Regions from separate parts of the Homo sapiens genome. Here regions 2, 3 and 4 are each linked to region 1. The links come from fine-mapping of genetic effects on gene expression. A gene starts in region 1. Each other region holds a variant in brackets. All regions are shown on one strand. Distances are between the middles of the regions.

Region 1 (5,151 bases):
GCGTGTCATGCAGTGGGACAGCACGTTGGTCCGGACCTCAAGCTACCCACGTTCTAGTCCCGCCTCTGTCATTTCCTAGAGCTGTGGCCTCGGGTAAGTCACCTCACCTCTCTGGGCCTCAGTTTCCTCATTTGTAAAGTGATGGGTTTGCTTAGATGATCGCTGAATCCCCTTTCTACCTTGAAATTCTAGTTCCTGCCATCCAGTTCCCAGATGAGGGAAATTTCCCCAATTTATTATCTTCTAAGAATGATTCTGAAGAGCAATAAAAATAATTAAGTCTCTTACATATTTCAAACAGGAAGGGAATGAAAGTTGTGACCATTGTTCCCTCCTTAGCCATTTTGTATAATCTCTTTTATTAATCTTAAGGTCATTTAAATTTTATCTATTCATATATACCACCTACTTCCAAAATAAATTTGAGGGGTTCAGTGTAAGGTGCATATATGCTATTAGGTCTTTAAAATAGAAATAGGAATAAATATAAAAATAGTGATGCTTCTTCATTGGCTAATATTGGTGCTGTGATTGAGCACCAAATGTAATTATGAGCAGCCTGGAAGCCAAAGCAAAAAGAGAGAAAGGTATATAATTGCTATTCAGTAAAGAAAAACTGCCAGACTGTTCCTAGTTCTAAATTCTGGAGGGAATTTTTTCATGTGGTACACAATCCTTTTACAGAAACTGCAGATAAAAATTCTTGACTAGCCCTTTTTTGCTGAGGATATTGTTAAAGGACATAAGGAAGGAGCTAAACTTGACAGTTTGACTAGCTTTAATCATTAGAAAGCAAAACTTCCTTTCTACCCATGCCTTGGAATTTTATACAGATATGTGTCACTTCGTAAATATAAATTTTCAGAATCAACCATTATTTATATATCAGCTATATATAAATTCATGTAACCACTTTGCAAAGCAATTTGGCAATATGTATCAAATTTTTAAATGCAGCCAACAATTCTTCTCCAAACTTATTCTGAGATTAGCTTGTGTAGATGAAGAAAGCCATAAATATAAAAATACTTATGGTAGCATTATTTATATAAGAAAATGTCTAGAAACCACATAAATGTTGGAGGCTAGTGAATTAAATTATATTACCTCTTTACAATGAATTACTTTGCAGCCCTTAAGATAAAGTAGATCTATATGTTTTGATATGGAAAAATCTTCAAGGATATAATGTTAAGTGAAATAAGAAGGTACAGCATTGGTATTAAATGCTTCCATTTTGGTTATAAAAAAGATATAGATTTATAACTTATGAATCTAGATATATGCTTGCATGTGCATACTTGCATTTTTCTGGAAGGAAACTGTTGCCAGTGGTTTCCTCTGGGAATGAAGATTGATAGTCTTGGGAGGGAGGGAGACCTACTATTCACAGCTTGTTTTTACGTTGTGGACTTGTTAGTGTTCTGTGTAGAGAGGTAGGAGAGTCTGGCAGTTGAAAGTCTAGACTCTGGAGTCTGAATACCTATGTTCAAATCCCAGCTGTCCCACTTACTAGCTCTGTGACCTTGGGGTTATCTTAATCTTATCTCTGTTCCTCATCTGTAAAATGGGTTAATAGTATCTTCCTCATTGGCTTATTGTAAGGATTAAATGAGTTATTACGGGTAAAGTGCTCAGAGCAGTTTAAACAATGCCATATACCACGCTTCTTGGAAAAATGAAAGGAGATATTAAGCAACAAGATAAATGCATCTAACCAAAAGCACCCTCCCCTGTTTTAGTGTTGGACAGATTTTATAAAATCTGTCATTGCTTCCAGCATTGTATGTTGTATAGAAGTTAAGTTTAAAGCAGCGGTCTTGTTTTTATTATTGTCACTTTATGTGACCTTGATTACCTTTTAGGGAGGGCATCTACTCTGGGATTCATGACAGTCTGCTATGATGCTGTTGATGCCCCTGAACTCATCTTGTTTTGTAGCTCTTCCATCCCAGCGAATGCTCAAGGCATGAACAGAACACATGCTAGGCCAGGTAGAAGGTCAATGAGGAGATGGCATCCCACGCCCTTCACTGTTCAAAGCCAGAGAGGAACTATCTAGAAATTCAAGTGTAAAGAGGATGTCCATGCTGGTTGTGACATGTGTGTTCACAGGCCTCATGCCTTTGCTTTTCTTTTGAAAAAGAAAGTGACAGAGACCTGGGGAGATGCTGTGTTAGGAGGGCCCCTCCTACTTTGGGCTCAGGAATCTCACCGCCTAAGGGACTTCCTGGGTGCTCAGAGGTACAGGAAGCAGAGCGCTCTGTGTTCACAGGTGCCCGCTTTCCTCCTCCCGACTCGCCGGTGCTTTAGGGCAGATCTGGATACTTTGGCTGATTTTGGGAAATGTTCTCTGAAGTTAGCCACACGTTAAGCCAGGCTTGAGGCCTTCACTGTGGTCACATGGTAGCTCCAGAGGTTGGGATGGGGGCTCTGGCCCCTTCAAATCAGCGGAGTTAGGAAGTATGCTCTCACCAAGAGGAATGCAAAGCCCACCTGCTCCAACCTCATGCCCCAGTCGGTGGTTCTCTTGTTCGTTCTTCTTTCTCGCCCTTTGTTCTGTACTCGCGGGCACTGGAGTCTCTTTATCCATTTGGCCATCGGTTCCCCTCTCCATTTATCTGTCACACCCAACTGTGCTTCCATCTGCCCTCCATCCCTCCTTCTCTCCTCCAGCCATCTGCCAGCCTTCACTCCATCCTTCTGACTGCTGGTATGTCTGTCCATCCCTCCTTCCCTCGCACCACGTGGGTCTGGGGCTCCATCCCCTGTCCCATCCATCCCTCCATCTGTCCCTAGCCTGCCGCTCCATCCCGCTGCCCTTTTGCATGGCTGCAGAGCCAGCCCGCAGACCGTTCCCCGGTCCCTCTCACCCCCGTGGGCCCTCTAGCCCGTCCCCGGCCGCCACTCCAGGCCAGGCCGTCAGTCTCCCACGCTGGGCCCGCGCCTGAGCGGGATCGGCCCCCCATCCCTCCGTGGGTCTGTCTTTGTTCGGCGGCCCCGGCCCGGCCGTGCCTCCCACGGCCCCTCCGCGCGGCTCCCAGGCCCTGAAGGCGGCGGGCGGCGGGCGGCGGGCGGCGGGCGGCTAGCCCGGGGCGGGGCGGGGCGCGCGGGGCGGGGCGGGGCGGGGGCCGGGGGTGACTCAGCCGCGCTCGCCCCGCGGTCCGCGCGTCCGCCGGCCTTGCAGGCGGGGCGGAGAAAATGGCGCTGCCCCCGGCCGCCGCGCCCCCCGCCGGGGCCCGGGAGCCGCCGGGGTCCCGCGCCGCCGCCGCTGCCGCCGCCCCCGAGCCGCCGCTCGGCCTGCAGCAGCTGTCGGCGCTGCAGCCTGAGCCGGGCGGGGTCCCGCTGCACTCGTCCTGGACCTTCTGGCTCGACAGGTGAGGGGGCGCGGGGCCCGCCGCGCACGGCCCCGACCCGGGTCCTGCCGCCACCGCCGCTTTGTCTCGGCGCGGCCCCTCGCCCCGGCCCCGCTCCGCTGTGGCACAGACCTCGGCCCCTCCGCGCGTCCGCCTGCGCACCCCGGGACTCGCCCCGCCGGGTCGGAAGCCAGCTTCGGGCCGCGCCGGGCGGCTGTTCGGCGTCCTCGCCTCCGGGCCGGGGGAGGACAGCGCAGCCCGAAAAGTTTCGGCAACACTTTCTACCCCTTGTTCCCTTCCGATCGGAACGCGGCGTGCTGGCAGGGCCGTGGGAGAGGGTAGGCGAGCTGGGGGTGGCCGCGTCCCTGCTGCAGGGAGAGGGCTGTCCTGCTTACCCCGCGGGGCGCCTGGGAGCTCAGGACACGACCTCAGCTGTGACAGCGCTCGGAAAAGTTGCCCATCCCTTGGGAGGTGTGCGGTGGTGCAATGATTATTGCACGGCGGGCGCTCCCACCCCGTGTCCGGCCGCTGCTGCCGTGGACTCCTCTTCCAGTTCTTCCTCATCCACTGGGCAGGTATTTCCTGAACACCTACAGTGGAGCCACACACCTGCTATGCGCTGGAGATTCAATAATGAGCAGCAGCTGACCTTGTCAGGAAGGGGGTGAATTATGGCTTTCTCAAGGGACAACCCAGGTGCCATCTTTTCAGAAAGACCCCCTGACTACCGTATCTAAAATAGAAACCTTGCTCCCTCGTTTTGTATTCTCCTGCCCTGCCTTCTTTTTCTTCCTAATGCTTAATGCAGCTGGATTTTATTATATATGAATTTGTTTACTTTCAGTCTGTCTCCCCAGCTCCTCAACACCTCCCCTCAGTTAAGGATAAAAGAGCAGTGGATTTTTGTTTTTGGACATTTTGGACCTAGAACTGTGCCTGGTCCCTAGTAAGAACACCAGAAATTGTTATGAATGAATAGATGGATGAATGCAAAGCCCCTTCTTAGTGTCTGCCCTGCAGTGGGTGCCCAATGATGACACCTCAAGGTTGTCCCAAGAGCATTTGGAAATTTTGATGAAACCGTGTCTATTCTGGCTAAGTGTTAGGAAGAAATGTGTGACAGTGTTCTGAGAAGTTTGCTTGGTACACACAAATCTGGTTTTAAAAGGCTTTGCATAAAATGACTGCAAGATTTTGTTTTAAAAAAGTGATATTCATTTTTTTTTTGGTTAAGACAAGCTCATTTCTTTTTTCCTTTTGGGTTCTTATAGCACCCGTCTATAAGAATTGTCACTTGCTGCCATTTTCTTTGCCGGAGACCCAAAAAAGTTGGGGGTGGGGGAGATGGAGTGAGTTTCGTTCTTTCAAAACATTTTCACTTTCATTATGGGATGCTAAGAGAGCATTATACTGTCATAACAAGCGTGCTTTTGGCAGACCTTAGCAGAATGAAATCGTGTCTGTTTTCATAGGTGTGCTGCAACTGTGCTATTGTTACCTGGTATCTGTTTTCAAGGTGTTAAACCTGGACCTGTGGTCTAAATTGTGAATACTGCTGACTGGTGGAAACAGTATCAAGAGAGTTTCTTTTTAAACAGGTCTAAAATTAGTTTACATGTAGGAACAACACTTTTAAGGACTGGTCTAAAATGTCAATACTACAGATAACACAATCTTTTAAGACTAGTAGCTTAAGATTATAGTAACTTTAATGAAGACAAAAACTATATCTATACTATTGATTTACACATTTTTGTTCTCTAAAGGTCGATCATCAAATGAAATACATTATTGC
Region 2 (5,151 bases), 22 kb after region 1:
CAGCCTCAAACTCCTGGTCTCAAGAGATCCTCCCACCCCAGCCTCCTCCCAAGTATCTGGGACTATAGCCATGTGCTACCACACCCAGCTAAATTATTTTATTTTTTTTGTAGAGATGGGGTCTTGCTATGTTGCTCAGGCTAGTCTCGAATTTCTGACCTCAAGCTGTGTTCCCTCCTTGACCTCCCAAAGTGCTCAGATTACAGGCATGAACCACTTTGGCCTGTACGTTGATCCTTTTACTCTCACTCCATTAGCACTAAAAAAAACTGCTTCTCCAATTATGTCTGTGTTTTCCTCCCATATGTGTTTAGATGAAAGGTAAAAATCATGTGATATTAATGATTGTCTTATTAAAGACATATGAGTCTTTTTATACTTTGAGGCCCTTTAGCAAATCAAAGTAGATGGTTTGGGAGAGGAATCGTTACCCCGTCTATTAGTTGAGGAGACTGAGGCTGGAGGTAAGAGGCCCAAACATTCCATGATTGGAAAGAGCCAGTCATGCCTTGCCTCTAGGACTAGAATTCCCTCCCAGTCCAATTCTCTTTCTTTTACTCCCCGTGATTGAGGAGTGGAGGAGACTCAGCCTCCAAAGGACCTGGGAACCCCTGCTGAGGACACTTTCATCACACCTAACAATAATTCTCTCTGCCTGGAGTTAAATTCATTTCTACTTTCCTAACTTTCTTGGAAAATTCCATTTTACATCTAGGCGTATTTTCCAGATGCTTATTGATTCTCTTACTCCTTTGTGAACCTGTCCAAATTTTCCACATTTCTCTTGTGATTTTGCATCCTCAGTGGTTGCAGTGCAGAATAGAAAATGGCTTTTAGCCGGGTGCATTGGCTCATGCCTGTGATCTCAGCTACTCAGGAAGCTGAGGTGGGAGGATTGCGTGAGCCCAAGAGTTCGAGTTCAGCCTGGGAAACATGGCAAGACCCACATCTCTGGGAGAAAAAAAAATAGAACACGGCTTTTGAACAAGCCCTGTTTTACCTGTTGGAGAATGAAGAGCTACCTGCCATTTGTGATTTGCAAGAGAAGTCTCCCTTCTCCAGTTTCTTTCAGCCTTATCTGCTACAAGACTAAAAATTCCACCCCTGAAAACTCATTCCTGTACAGCACTCTGTCTCGAACATCAGTTATTTGGTGTATCGCCTTAAAGATTTTGCCACACCTATCTCACTTGTGGTACATTCTACCCAGTATTTCTTATAACTTGACTTCTTATTTAAATTTGCATAAAACAGAAACCATATTTCCTCTATAAGTGGAAATTCAGCATCGTTTATCATAAGCAGAAAGTCTTCCTAAAGAGTATATATAACCTATTGAAATTAAGAAAATGTTTCCCCTGCATATGCCAAACCTATCCTGTGTGCTGTCGATAATATCAAGACTTCATATCCGCAGGTCAAGCCGCCTGACTGGAGTTGTGCAGTTAAGTTAGGGCAGCAGATTGCTTTCCAAACCCTTGGGAAATGAGGGCTCTTCCTTCAGAAGAAGAGGTTTTCTAGGTCAGTATTGATCATGGAGGATGGTGGAAAGATTGATTCCAAGTACTTGCTGCCCTGGACACAGCAAGACAGCCCATGGTGTGTGGTGTCCTGCAATAGAATGACCTGGAGTGAACCACTTGGCTGAAGGGAGGGGCCTGAGGGGAGAGAGGAGGAAAGCCAACACTGAAAAGAGAAAGAGAAGGACCTGCAGCCAGGTCCACTTCATAGTTCTGTCTAGCACAGACTTTGCATCCAGTATAACAAGATTCTTTATCCATCATTTAGTTTATTCATTATATGCATAATAGGATCAACATCTATAGCTACAATCCAGTTATGAAGAAATATAACTGAAGTTAAATTGCTTGTATTCCTCCACATTCTCAGTGGAGGCTGTTGTGTCTGTGTATTGGGTGGGGTGAGACTTGACCTTGTTAATTAAAAGTAATTTAGTCACTTCAACTGTGAAACTGGGTCTCTTCTAATTTAAATCTCTTTTGGGAAAAATGACCACCCTCTTCTCCTTCTCCATATGAACAGGCATATGCAGAAATACCCCTGACCCCTCCTGACCTTGGGCCATGCCCACCACCTTTGGCCCTGCTGTAACCTCATGTTATGAAGACCCCTGCTATGTACACACACATCCAGACCCCAGGCCCTGTTGT[C/A]CTTAGGCTTTCTAGCAATTTCAAGCTCCAGATTGGAGATTTAGGAAATGTTGGCTGCCTTCCCCCGACCCCACCAGAATGAGGGGAACTCTATAAGGTTGTGGCAGGCCCTCCCGGCCAGAATAACCCCTCCTGCCTTCACAGCTGTTCTCAGACCTGACCGCCATGTTGCTCAGCGCTGTAGGAATGAGGGCCTTTTCTGGGAGTCTTGGAGCCTCTTGGGCTGTACCAGGAAGCAGGTTCCACACTCCTCTGGTCTAGGCATCCCCAATCTTTGGGTGGGGCTCTCTCCCATCCTTTCAGGGTTTTAACCCCACTGTCCTCTCTCTCCAAGCTTTTAACTCCCCAACTCAGAGTTGGTTTTTACTAACTTTCTATGTGGTGGGAAATTACCCTCACATCCTGTCACATCTCGTTTACTCTATGATCACAACTCCACACTTGGGCTCTCTCTTTAAGCCAAGCCCTTTTTGGAATTCAAAGGAAAACCCATTTCTCTCTCAAGTACCTAGCTCTTGTAAATCAGAAGCACTTTGCTTTCAGCCTTTGTGTCTGCTGTGAGTTAAAAACATCCATTAAACTCTTCAGTTGCCTATTCGGTTCAGATGCCTATTGGCCCTGCCCATAAATACCACTTATTCAGTTGGTGGGAAGCCCCAGGCAACTAGTAATACCTAATGAGCAAAAATATTTGTTTTGTTTTTTTGGAAATACTCTCTTGCTACACATGCCACAACCTTGGAATAAATCCTGGAATTTTTTTTTTTTTTTTTTTTTTTTGATGTGTGTTTGCTGGGTGGTTTTGTTTCTGGTTTGTTTTACAAAACAGACATATCACTTTGTTGTCTGTCAACACATGACATCTTTTCTTCTGAAGAATTTCCAAGTGCATTCTTTTTCTTCAGAACATTTCAGTAGGAAATTGAGGAGGAAATTTGCCAGTTTTCTTGGTAATGAATGATTATCTATTTGGCAGAAGGCTGTAAGGTGGGGCATAGTTGCTCCAATCAGTGCTATCAGATTGGGGATTTATCAAGTGGTCAGCATATTAATGGGTCTAACCATACTTTGTTTCCTTCCTTAGGCCTAGCAAGTGCTTTCACTTTGCATTTCATCATTACATTTTCCAGTGAAATAGCTGTATCCTTATACAGAGGAGGCAACGTGGGTTTCACGGGCTACATGACCTGTGAAGGTTATGCTGAGAACCTAGGTCTTAAATCCAGGTATTAGACTCCACTGGACAGGTGTCTTCCCTGCCTCAGTTTCTCCAGGAGAGGTGCCAGATTGGTGTTCCAGAACATACCTCCCAAGGAGTGGATTGCTGTGGTCAAAAGCTGACCCTCCTGCATTCAGCTAAGTTCCCCAAGGACCCGTCACAGTGCTCTGTTCACAACTGATGGTCACAGATGTTGACTGAATGAATGATGTTCAACTTTTATACCTCTCCTAGTCTTAGGGTGATTATCAAGGCTTTTGGGAAAAAAAAGCATTTAACCATCATTAATAAACATTGTGCTTAGTTTTACTTTTACTGCAATCTTGGATTTGCAAGTCTAACAGAATTAATTATAAGCCTAAAGGCTTCTGAAATCTATTTGCAAGATTTTATATATAGTAAAATTTAAGTGTTTCCATTTTCAAGATGTGTTACAGAGAGTATAATCTTGAATTACCAGGCTTCCGCTGTAGCAGACCTTTCACTTCTGCAAGGGCGGAAGAGGTTTTCAGGAGCTGAGTAATGCTAGATTCCTTCCTGTAGGTATTTCACCAGCAGACATACTTCACAAATATTCTACCTATTGGATGAGGTTTGCAACAGGGAAACAGACCAGTTTAATGACACATGCTTTTCAAATAGGGCTTTTTTTTTTTTTTTTAATGGTGTGACCGGATATTTTGCTCCTATTTTATGCTCAGCAAAAACGTACAAATATGTGCTTTAATGAATATGTTAAGTCTATCACTGATCTTCTTGGGCTGTAATCTCTTCCTGTCAAATTTGCCAAGCCAAGCAGAATCAGTTGTCTGTTTTTGTTTTCAAGAGAAGCTTCTAAAGCTCCAATCCTTAGCATGATCTTTAGTGTTTTTCTGATCTTTGAAATGGAAGAAGTGTTTTGTTGTATTTTTTCAGTGTGCTTCAAGTACTAGGTTAAAAAGTCAAGATTTGACAACTTTGACCGGGGTATGACGGCAGGAACTTTGGTTTGTGATGCCTTTGAGGAGACTTGAAGTTTGCCAGCACCAAAGTCCTCTTAGTTTTACCTTAGGCAGGGGTTTTCCTCTTAATGTTATTTTGTGCATAAATTCTACAGAGGTCATTGCCACATCGTAACCAGGTTCTCAGGCTGGAGTTGACAACCACCAGCCTCTTGTGAATTATGGGCATTTTACTGGTGGGAAAATATCTTCAACATGTGTCCCTCTTTCTGTGGCTTCATGACCTGATTCTTGGCTGCTAAGATTGGAGAAAGATGTGTCAAAAACATATAGTAGTATCTTCGAAGAAAATAGCTGAGTGGTTAGGAACAGAGGTTTGGGAATCAAATTGCCTGGATTCAGATTCCAGCCCTGCCTACCCACCCTCACACCACAGAAACTGAAATATTGGAATAATCTTATTTGTACAAATAGCAAAGCATTTACAGGATAGGTACCTCCATAGAGGCAGATGGGTGTTTGAGGAGCTACTGTTAATACAGTAGCTTTTAACTCCTCACTACACTAGCACCATTTTAGTAGAAGGGAGCCAAAGTGGATTCTCAATTAATACATCTGTCATCCTGTAGTTTTTTGCCTTCAATTTGATCTTATAGTTCATCATTGCCACCTTTGCAGTTAATTCAGCTTTATTATTTTTTTAACACAAAACAGGCTTGAACAACCCAGCAGGATTATCATTCAACATAGCTAAAATTCTATTCCACCCATGTGACTCAGTTCATGAGCCCTAGGATTGATTTTTCTAATTGCTATTTTA
Region 3 (5,151 bases), 23 kb before region 1:
TTGGAGGGTGTATGGGTTAGGAATTGCAGTTTGATACTAGTAGCAAAAAACGTGTACATGAGTTTATTTTCCTCGTGAAAGAAGAAGTTTGGAGGTCAGTAGTTGCTGACATTGATTTATTGGCTCAAGGACTGAATCTCTGAAAATCTTTTAGCCCTTCCCTCATGATCACAGTAGGCTGCCGACGCCCCAGCCATCATTTCTTCATTCCAGGCAGAAAGAAGAAAAGGGAAAAGAGCAGCAATATTCCAGCCATCTAAGTAGGAAGAGCTTTCTAGAAGCCCTACATTATAAACAAACACTTAAACATATCATTGGCTATCAATTGAGAGTGAGCACTTGAGCAAGGGAGGGTAGGAAATGGTTTCTTATTTCTTTGTTTAAAGTTAGACCCATGGCTGTAGAGAATTCGATCCTGCCTTGCTGTGGCCCTTAGCGCTTGGGCTGCCTCTGCCCAGAGGAGGGAATGCCTTCTTAATAACCCACACAAATTCACCAACTCTGGTTGCTTTATGGTAATACTAATGGCAGCCACCTTTTACTGAGCACTTGCCGTATGCCAAGCATTGTGCTAAATTCTCGACATGTGTTATTTAATGTAATCATTGTAATGGCCAGATGTGGTATGTGCTGTTACTGTCTTCATTTTGCAGAGGAGGCAGAAGGGTTAATTTGTTCACGCTTTCACCACTTACACTTACTTTACACTTACTTTCAAGTAAGTGTAAGAGCTGGAAGTCTGACTTTATTTATTTTGAAACAGGGTCTCACTCTGTCACCTAGGCTGGAGTCAGTGGCATCATCATGGCTCACTGCAGCCTCAACCTCCCAGGCTCAGGCCGTCCTCCTATCTCAGCCTCCTGAGTAGCTGGGACCACAGGCTTATACCACCATGCCCCGCTAATTTTTAAAAAATTATTTGTAGAGGCCGGATGCGGTGGCTCACACCTGTAATCCCAGCACTTTGGGAGGCCGAGGCGGGTGGATCATGAGGTCAGGAGATCGAGACTATCCTGGCTAACACGGTGAAACCCCGTCTCTATTAAAATGCAAAAAATTAGCTGGGCATGGTGGCAGGCGCCTGTAGTCCCAGCTACTCAGGAGGCTGAGGCAGGAGAATGGCATGAACCCGGGAGGCGGAGCTTGCAGTGAGCCGAAATCGTGTCACTGCACTTCAGCCTGGGCAACAGAGCGAGACTCCGTCTCAAAAAAAAAAAAAAACCAATTATTTGTAGAGATGGGGTCTCCCTATGTTTCCCAGGCTGGTCTAGAACTCCTGGGCTCAAGTGATCCTCCCACCTCAGCCTCCCAAAGTGCTGGGATTACAGGCGTGAGCCACCACACCCAGCTGAGGAACTCTGTGTTTAGAGTCCATCCTCATGATCTCCACAAACACTGCCTCTTTGTTATAACTGTGAAGAAAGCTTTTGAGTTTATAAAAGCAGTAAACTAACATACACAAACTACTGATGCTCCCGGGCACAGAATTATAACCCCTTTCGAGAGGGAAGGATTTTTCAAAACCATCTAATCCTAACACTTGAATTTTACAAACAGAGAAGCTCATGAATAGCTGAGTGGGAGGGAGAACCCAGGTCCTCCCACTCCTAGGTCACTACCTTCCACTTTAAATCTTCATATTTTTTATTCTAATGAGCACATGGTGTTCGACAAGTCACTTAACCTCTTGGAATCTCAAATGTGTCCATTTATGAAATGGGACGTTGGACCAAATGATTTCTGAGGGTCCTGGGCTCTGAAGTTGAGTTTAGGTATAAGGAAATGGAAGTTAAGTGATTATGTCTCCCAAATGGGGAGAGATTTATTTTTCAGAAAAGGACACAAAAGAAGAGACATTATTAATTCCTTATAACTTAAAATTTTCTGTTTTCTGTTTCTATCTACGGTGCAAAATGCTGCTCTTGAGATTTGGTTTAGTCATTTTCCCAGGCTCAAATAGCAGAAGCAGCAGTAGAAAATACATAAATCATGGTTCTCTCACAGCATTTATATGCCTACTTCTTTCATTATCAACATTTGTTCAGTAGATTAATACTTAAGGAAAAACTGTTCACATTTCATTGGCCAGGATCAACGTATTTTCCTTTTACTGTTTCTAGGAAGCTGCAGGCAAGAATTTTAAATGCTTTCTTAGGCACCAAATTGCATGCCTTCATCTCAAAGCAAAACAGCTCTATGACATTTTTTTCCTATAAGAAAATTTCCATTATTCTTGTATAATCAAATTATTCCTTTTGGACATAGAAACAAAAGTATTTCCCACCCCCACTCCCCAAATCATTTATGTCACTTCTTTGATGTACGTATAGATGGTGTGAATGGTACTAGAAATCCTGACTGTTCAGAGGAACTGGTTGGCACCCTTTGGCAGATACAGTCAAGGTCATGGGTTCCCTAATCATGAGGTCCAGTCTGGCCAGTGTATCCTGTTTAACCTCAGGCTTCTGGCCAGTCACCTGCCAATAGGTACATTAAACACCAAGTTAGAGAAGGTTGGTTTGACTTAACTCCATCCCAACTCTTAGAAAAAGTGAGCCAAAGTCTAGGCCCAGTGGATGTTGGATTATCAAAGGGCAGCACTCAAGTTGACCTCCCCATGGGACGAAGTCATAACTTTGACAATGAAAGTGGGCCTTG[C/T]GGTGAGGACCACTCTGGTTCATGTCCAGTTTCCACCACTGACTAGCTGTGCATTAGTGGTAGTTGTACATGAACCAGATTGTACCTAACTGTAAAGAGCCCAGACTTTGGCTCATTGGGCAAGTCTCTTGCCTGCTCTGAACGTCTGAATATCAAAAGCCCATTGTGGGAAGATTCAATTAAATGAGATTCATTTACAAAGAGTGTAGCACAAGGTGTGCACACAAGTCGTGTGCAATAAATGGTTAACTACACTTATGCATATTTGCTCTTACCTGACTATATAAATGTCTTGGCTAACCATGATTTAATTGACTTTTGTATTTCCCACCTCAGCTTAACCTAGCAGGATGCCCTGTACACAGTAGGTTCTCAATATGTATGTGGCAAGTATGAGTGTCAGTCTATATAATCAAGAGTGCAAGAAGTGCAGCTGCTTCCTAGAAACCTAATTTCTGACTCTGTGTTGCCATTTTGTCTTGCTGGTGGGGAAAAAAAGAGGTAGCCTTAGTGCATCTTGGGTTTCATCATGGGTCCTTGCTTTCTCAGAATATACTGTAATTTCAGGCAGGTGCCTAAATTGCCTAGTATATGGTCATTCAGGATAGTGCGCGCATGTGTGTGGGGTGTCCCTTCTCATATTTCATCAGTTGTTGGCATATCGTTCCTGTTCTTCCAAGCCATCGTGGTTTGGTGACTCTTGGCTGCCTTGTGCCAGACTTGTGGTGTGAGAATCTGGGCTGAGGATGCATTTGATATTAGATGCATCCACAGGTATTCTTCTCAGCAGTATATCTGAGAAACTGGGTGCAGCTCCCCTCTCTCTCAGTACCCTTCTCTTCTCCTCCTCCTACCTTCATCTCCAGGGACTCCCTATATACTCTGGAAGAGGGTGAAAACCCAGTTCTTCCTTGTTCTTCTGGACAATGTAATTATAGTCATCCCTCAGTATAAACAGGGAATTCGTTCCAGGGCCTCCGCGTGCACCCAAATCCATGCATACTGAAGTCCCATAGCCAGCCCTGCAGAACCCATATATATGAGAAGTCAGCTCTTCATATATGCAGGTTTCACATCTCTCAAATACTGTATTTACCATCTTGTTTTGATTGAAAAAAAAAATCACATATAAACCAACCCATGCAGTTCAAACCCATGTTGTTCAAGAGTCAACTGGAATCAATTTCCCTGGGAAGCTGTGTTCCCCAAATTCAGGTGTTTGGAAAAAATAAAAGCCGGGAAGCCACCTTGCCGTAAACCTCTCCTAGTCAAGGAAGCCCAGAGCCTGCTATCCACTTGAATGTTGGGAAGGAAAGGGAAAAATAGAGGAAGAAAAATGATCACTGCATATCTCAAAATATTGTGCTTGCTGTCTGTATTTGTTGAATGAATAACTGAATATCTTTATGTGTATATGTATAGCATATTGTTAAACTTCATTTAAGCAAAATGTGTTTAGTGAAAACTCTTTAACAGTTGGTTTTCTTTCTCCACATGCAAGAGAATGAAATTGCGCCCCAACCCCACCCCATATATTTTAAAAAATTCAAAATTGATGATAGACCTAAAACTCAGGGCTAAAACTATAACAACTCTTAGAAGAAAATATAGGAGTAAATTTTCATGACTTTAGATTAGGAAGTGGTTTCTTGGATATGTTCCCAAAAGGATAGGTGACAAAAGAAAAAAATACATAAATTGGATTTCATTAAAATTTTTAGGGTTTGTGCTTCAATAGACACCATCAAGAAAATGAAAGGCCCGCCTACAGAATGGGAGAAAATGTCTTCAGATAATGTGTCTGATGGGGGACTTGTATCCAGAGTATATAAAGAACTCATAACTCAAAAAAGACAACCCAATTTTAAAAATGGACAAAGGCTTTAAATAGGCATTTCTCTAAAAAGAAATGTAAATGGCCAATAAGCACATGGAAAGATACTTTGCATCATTAGTCAATAGGACAATGCAATTCAAACCATCTGAGATACCACTTCATATCTACTATAGTGGCTATTATCAAAAATGTAGATGATAACAGGTGTTGGTGATGATATGGAGGAATTGGAACCCTCAGATGATGCTGGTGGGGGTGGAAAATGATACAGCTGGTTTGGAAAATGATTTGGCAACTCCTCAAAAAGTTAAACATAGAGTTACCTTATGACCTAGCCATTTCACGCCTAGGCATTTACCCAAGAGAAATGAAAACATGTCCACATGAAAGCCCACATGTAAATGTTCATAACATCGTCATTCCTAATAACCAAAAGGATAAAGCAACACAAAGGTCAATGAATGAATGGATGGATAAATAAAATGTCATATATCCCTACAGTGGAATACTATTCACTCATAATAACAAGTACTGGTATGTGATGCTCCAGCGTGGATGAACCTTGAAAATACTGTGCTCAATGAAAGAAGTCAAACACGAAAGACCACATATTGTACAAATCCACTTACATGAAATGCCCAGAACAGGTAAATCCA
Region 4 (5,151 bases), 42 kb before region 1:
ACTGCACTCCAGCCTGGTTGATAGAGCAAGACCCTATATATATATATAGAAAGAAAAAAAGGCTATGATGTTTCTTCCAGTTCCTAGGATTGTCTCACACACATGCTGGGACTTCATAGACCAGAATTTCCACAAAGTAAGGCAAGATGAAAATTTACACGAGAAAAACTAAATCCACAGTCTACTTTGAAAATATCATGAATGAATTCCCTTCATTCCAAGGTAGAAAGAAATCTTATGCTAGAAGATGATGCCCAAACCCTACTGGACCTTCGGATTTCTTTGCAAACATTGACTTTCATGAAAACTATCATTTCTGACTTTGTTTTGCCTTTTATCAGAAGCAACATTTTTTTAACCATAGAAAAGTTTATGCCGAAACTATTTCCTATAAACCCTCCTATCTCACTGAGAACCTTTATTCTTCTCAGTATTTCAATGTAGTTCTTTTGTTAGAGCCTTTTATAAAGTCAGTTCAGTGATAGATCAAACACATAGCCCAATTTTCCTCTTCATTGGTTTCAATATTAGAAACCTCATCCCACACTTTTCTAGCTTCATTTTTAGAAGGTTAAAGCTGGGGGCCATTTTAACTTTAAAAACCAGACACTTTTGGTATTCAGTAAGGGTCCCTGTGCAATTCACTAGCAACCTTTTATGGTGTTTCCACCTCCATGTTGCTATGTCTTTCTGATAATATCCTCAGAATTAGTCTCTGATATCTTTCCCAAAGTTGTTAATTCTCACTCCCTTTTGTGTTAAAGAGAACTCAGTTTCTTCCAGCATTTTCACAAATTTTAATTGACAAAAATTGTATTTATTTATGGTATACAACATGATGTTTTGAAATATGGATACATTGTGGAATGCTAAATTGAGCTAATTAATGTATAGACTACCTCACACATCATTATTTTGCAATGAGAACAGTTAATATCTCTTAGTGATTTTCAAGTATACAGTATTAACTGTAGTCACTGTGTTGTATGATATATCTTCGTTCCAGGATTTTTTAATGTATTTCAAAGATGACAGTCTTTAACAACATGATCTTTAAATAAACTTTATTATCCCCCATATATATATATATATATATATATATATATATATATATATATATGCATATGTGTATATATTTTTAGGGTACTTTCAGAGTACACATTTCCCAAAATTAGACATGCAATTATGATGCTGTTCTTGAAGTACAGTTCCCATTTTTTCCATCACCCACCACTCTGAAAAATTTTGATTTGATTTTTATAGGATGAGGCCTAAGTGTTAGGATTTTTTTTAAAGCTCCCTGATTAATTGCAAGGTACATCCATAGTTGAGAGCCACTGAGAACCAATACAGGACTGTGTTCCTATAGAAAGGTTACTGGTACCCAGTGACACTATTTGATGAGACACCTTCCTAGTTGAATTAGAAATGAGGATAGTAGCTGAGTGTCTTTGAATTTCTTACCCTCAAAAGTTCCTGTGGTCCTCAGCACCAGTTCCCTTTCATTCTAGAGGGAAGCACACAGAGGGGTCCCACTGGAGAATTCCCAGCAGCAATTAGCCCATTTGAAGAATTCATGTGAAGTTCCCTAGAATTAGATTAGGGAAGCAGGCCCCAGTCCAACCTGGCTAGCCTCACAGCTCCCTGGGTTTCATGAGTTCTCACATCCTCTAGTGCACCCTCCGGGGTGACCCAGCTTCAAAACTCCCTAGCAGGCACTCCCCTCTCCCAGCCCCTTCCGCATACATCTCAGGATTTCATTCTATTTTGCTGGGTCCATAAATCATCTAAGTGCTTTAGAAAGCCCAATATTGCACCACACTGTAACTGAATAAATCAGAATGGTAAGCATTTCAATAAAATAGATATTTGTCATAAAAGATTAAAAGCAAAAAAGTAGGAAATTGTGGTATAGGCAACACGATGGCTGGCAACAAAATGCAGAGGCTAACGCATATTTAAGCATTCTTGTGCCCCTGTGGAGATTCCCTCATCATAAAGCCTGGAATGCCGACTCATGCAGTTGTGCCAGCTGGGCAAAACGATGGCCTTCTCCATGGAGTGACAACCATGGTGAACAGTTCCAGGCACTCTCACATTACTCCAGAGTTTCTCCATCTCAACGCTAGTGACTTTCTGGGCCACTTTTTTTTTTTTTTTTTTTTTTTTTTTTTTTTTTTTTTGAGACAGAGTTTTGCTCTGTCACCAGGCTGGAATGCAGTGGCATGATCTCTGCTCACTGCGACCTCTGCCTCCTGAGTTCAAGTGGTTCTCCTGCCTCAGCCTCCCGAGTAGCTGGGACTACAGGCGTGCACCACCATGCCCGGCTAATTTTTGTGTTTTTAGTAGAGACAGTGTTTCACCATATTGGCCATGGCTGGTCTTGAACTCCTGGCCTCAAGGGATCTGCCCACCTCAGTCTCCCAAAGTGCTGGGATTACAGGCATGAGCCACTGCTCCTGGCCCTGGGCCACATAATTTATTGTTGTGCAGGACTCTCCTGTGCATTGTAGGATGTTTAGCAGCATGCCTGGCTACTAGTTCCAGTAACACTCCCCAAGTTTCGACAACCAAAAACGTCTCTAGACATTGCCAAGTGTCCTCTGCAGGTTGCAGGTGGGGATAAATTGTCCCCCTTTGAAAACTACTGCTTTAGTCTAAAGCTATTTTGTGTCTGCTTGACTTCACTTGATAATAATATGTTTTTATTTCAGTATAAAAAGTTGAAAAGACAGTATTTAAAAAGTTAAAACCTCCAAATGTGACACTGCAAAATAAGTATCCTAAAAAACAAGCAAAATATTTTGTATCCAAAATAGTGGATGGGGCTGGGCATGCCAGTGGCTCACACCTGTAATCCCAGCACTTTGGGAGGCTGATCACTTGAGGGCAGGAGTTCAAGACCAGCCTGGCCAACATGGCAAAACAGGTAGCTGGGATTACAGGTGTGCTGGTGCATGCCTATAATCCCAGCTGCTGAGGAGGCTGAGGCACAAGAATTGCTTGAACCCAGGAGGTGAAGGTTGCCTTGATCCAAGATCAAGCCACTGCACTCCAGCTTGGGTGACAGAGCAAGACTGTGTCTCAGAAAAAAAAAAAA[AG/G]TAGTGGAAGGGTAAAACATTTGATATAATTTACATATTCAATAAAAAAATCAGTTATCTGTCAGCTCTATAGTTTACTGTGTTTCAAGGAAGAAATTTTTATAGTCACTCTTTAAAATAAAGTTTAAGATGAAGGACTCTTTGGGAGGCCGAGGCGGGTGGATCACAAGGTCAGGAGTTCAAGACCAGCCTGGCCAAGATAGTGAAACCCCATCTTTACTAAAAATACAAAAATTAGCCGGGCTTGGTGCTACTCGGGAGGCTGAGGCAGGAGAATTGCTTGAACCCAGGAGGCAAAAGTGGCAGTGAGCAAAGATCGCACCACTGCACTCCAGCCTGGGAGACGGGGTGAGACTCCGTCTCAAAAAAAAAAAAAAAAAAGAAAGAAAAAAGATGCTATATAATTCATCTGATATTCATCTATTCATCTAATTTATGATTGAATTAATAATTAATCTGAGCCCTTCATCTTTTTTTTTTTTTTTTTTTTTTTTTTTTTTTTTTTTTTTGAGGAAATGTGTCTCCCAGCCTTGTCTGGAACTCCTGGGCTCAAGTGATCCTCCCACCTTAGCCTCCCAAAGTGCTGGGATTACAGGTATGAGCCACCACACCCGGCCAACTTCACATCTTTAGAGTATACTTCTAACACATTTCCACACTGTTTAAATCTAAATTTTAATCATCTTGATTAAAATGTGATATAACTAATGGAAAATTGTTTTGCAGAAATGTAAAAGCTTTACAAGCAAAATTGGGGGCAATTGTGCTTTATTAAGTTAAACAGTTGAATAATTGCTGAGAAGTTCACATGTAGTCTTTCCGTGCAAACAAGACTGAGGCTGGCAGGGATGCATTTGGTTCATTCTTAAAAGCAAACAAGCAAATCAACAAAAACTTTGTATTATTGAAATTTTTAAACATAAAAGTAAAGGAGTGTAAAGCAGTCTCATCTATCCATCATTCAGTGTCTCATCAGCATTTATCATCTTGATGCCAAGCGTCTTCTACCTCTACCGCCCCACCTACCTCCACCCCTTCTGTATTGTGTTGAAGTGAATCAATTTTGTCCTTTCTTGACAAGGTCCACTGGTCACTATTTCATATGGAAAAGACAGCCAGCCACATTCTGTATGTTATCAATACATCTTCAGCCTGTACTCTTAAATATTTGCTCTTGAGATATATTTTTGAAATCCAAAATAGGCGTTTGAAATGGAGGAGCAAAATATTTCAGGCCCAGAATGTGTATGTGAATGAACGTTTGCTCCTGTATAGAAATTTAAAAGAAAATATTTTGCGACTCAAAACATAGGAGACTTAGAGAAGTTTATGTCTAACTGTGGTGCTGTGATTGGTTTATAGGAGCTGAATGGTGCCTGAAATTAGTCACATTTGCTTTAAACAGCAAATGTGAATATTCTGTATTAATTTTTTTGAATCTGGTTAGAAGAGGAAAAATTTCTACATGGAAGATATTTAATAAAACTGGTAGACTCTTAATTGTCTTCCACAGTTCTTTTATTCTCACATTTATTCATTACTTCTCATATTCTCTCTCTCTCTCTCTCTGTTTTAGCAGGGTACATGACCACCCATCTAGACATCTAGAGACTGGAGACTGCATTTACCAGCTGCCCAAGTGTGGCCATGTAATGTAAATTCTTAGCGATGAAACGTGAACAGAAGTGATCTGCCACATTTACTTAAAAGAAAACTCCACTTCCTCTCCAATAAGGAGATGCAATAATGAACCTGTCTGCTTTGCAGAGAGTGAAGGCAATTGGGAAAGATAGTAGAGCTGACCCACCAACGTGGGTCCCTGGATAACCTCCAAAAGCAGTCACCTCATATTAGAGAGAGACAATCATGCCACCGTTGTAACTTTGTTAAAGCACTCCCACCTCTACTAACCAAAAAGTGGAATCATTCTCTTCAAAAGTGCATCATGTTTTTTATACTTTATACTTCATTTTGTTATTTTTTATTTATTTATTTATTTTTGAGACGGAGTCTTGTTCTGTTGCCAGGCTGGAGTACAGTGGCGCAATCT

Evidence for each region. PIP is the estimated chance that this variant, and not a neighbour inherited with it, causes the effect.
Region 2: its variant is the best candidate, but not a certain one, in a credible set for the expression of EIF4E3 in whole blood (INTERVAL, PIP 0.88).
Region 3: its variant is the best candidate, but not a certain one, in a credible set for the expression of EIF4E3 in whole blood (TOPMed, PIP 0.89).
Region 4: its variant is the best candidate, but not a certain one, in a credible set for the expression of EIF4E3 in prefrontal cortex (CommonMind, PIP 0.64).

What each region holds. Positions count from the first base shown.
Region 1 is chr3:71,723,418-71,728,568 of GRCh38, reverse strand. EIF4E3 (eukaryotic translation initiation factor 4E family member 3) reads left to right here and starts at 3,167. Exons shown (of 7, transcript NM_001134651.2): 1 at 3,167-3,377. The coding sequence starts at 3,202. RefSeq lists silencers at 3,443-3,512, 3,643-3,762.
Region 2 is chr3:71,701,612-71,706,762 of GRCh38, reverse strand. All of the region lies in intron 2 of EIF4E3 (eukaryotic translation initiation factor 4E family member 3), which reads left to right. Among named protein-coding and RNA genes, the nearest start is that of EIF4E3, 21 kb to the left of the region's middle. RefSeq lists an enhancer at 2,406-2,987. The variant C/A (reference allele first, on the strand shown) is at 2,172.
Region 3 is chr3:71,746,837-71,751,987 of GRCh38, reverse strand. It overlaps a transcript of EIF4E3 not described here. Among named protein-coding and RNA genes, the nearest start is that of GPR27, 4.4 kb to the left of the region's middle. The variant C/T (reference allele first, on the strand shown) is at 2,659.
Region 4 is chr3:71,765,473-71,770,623 of GRCh38, reverse strand. No RefSeq gene overlaps it. Among named protein-coding and RNA genes, the nearest start is that of GPR27, 14 kb to the right of the region's middle. The variant AG/G (reference allele first, on the strand shown) is at 3,101.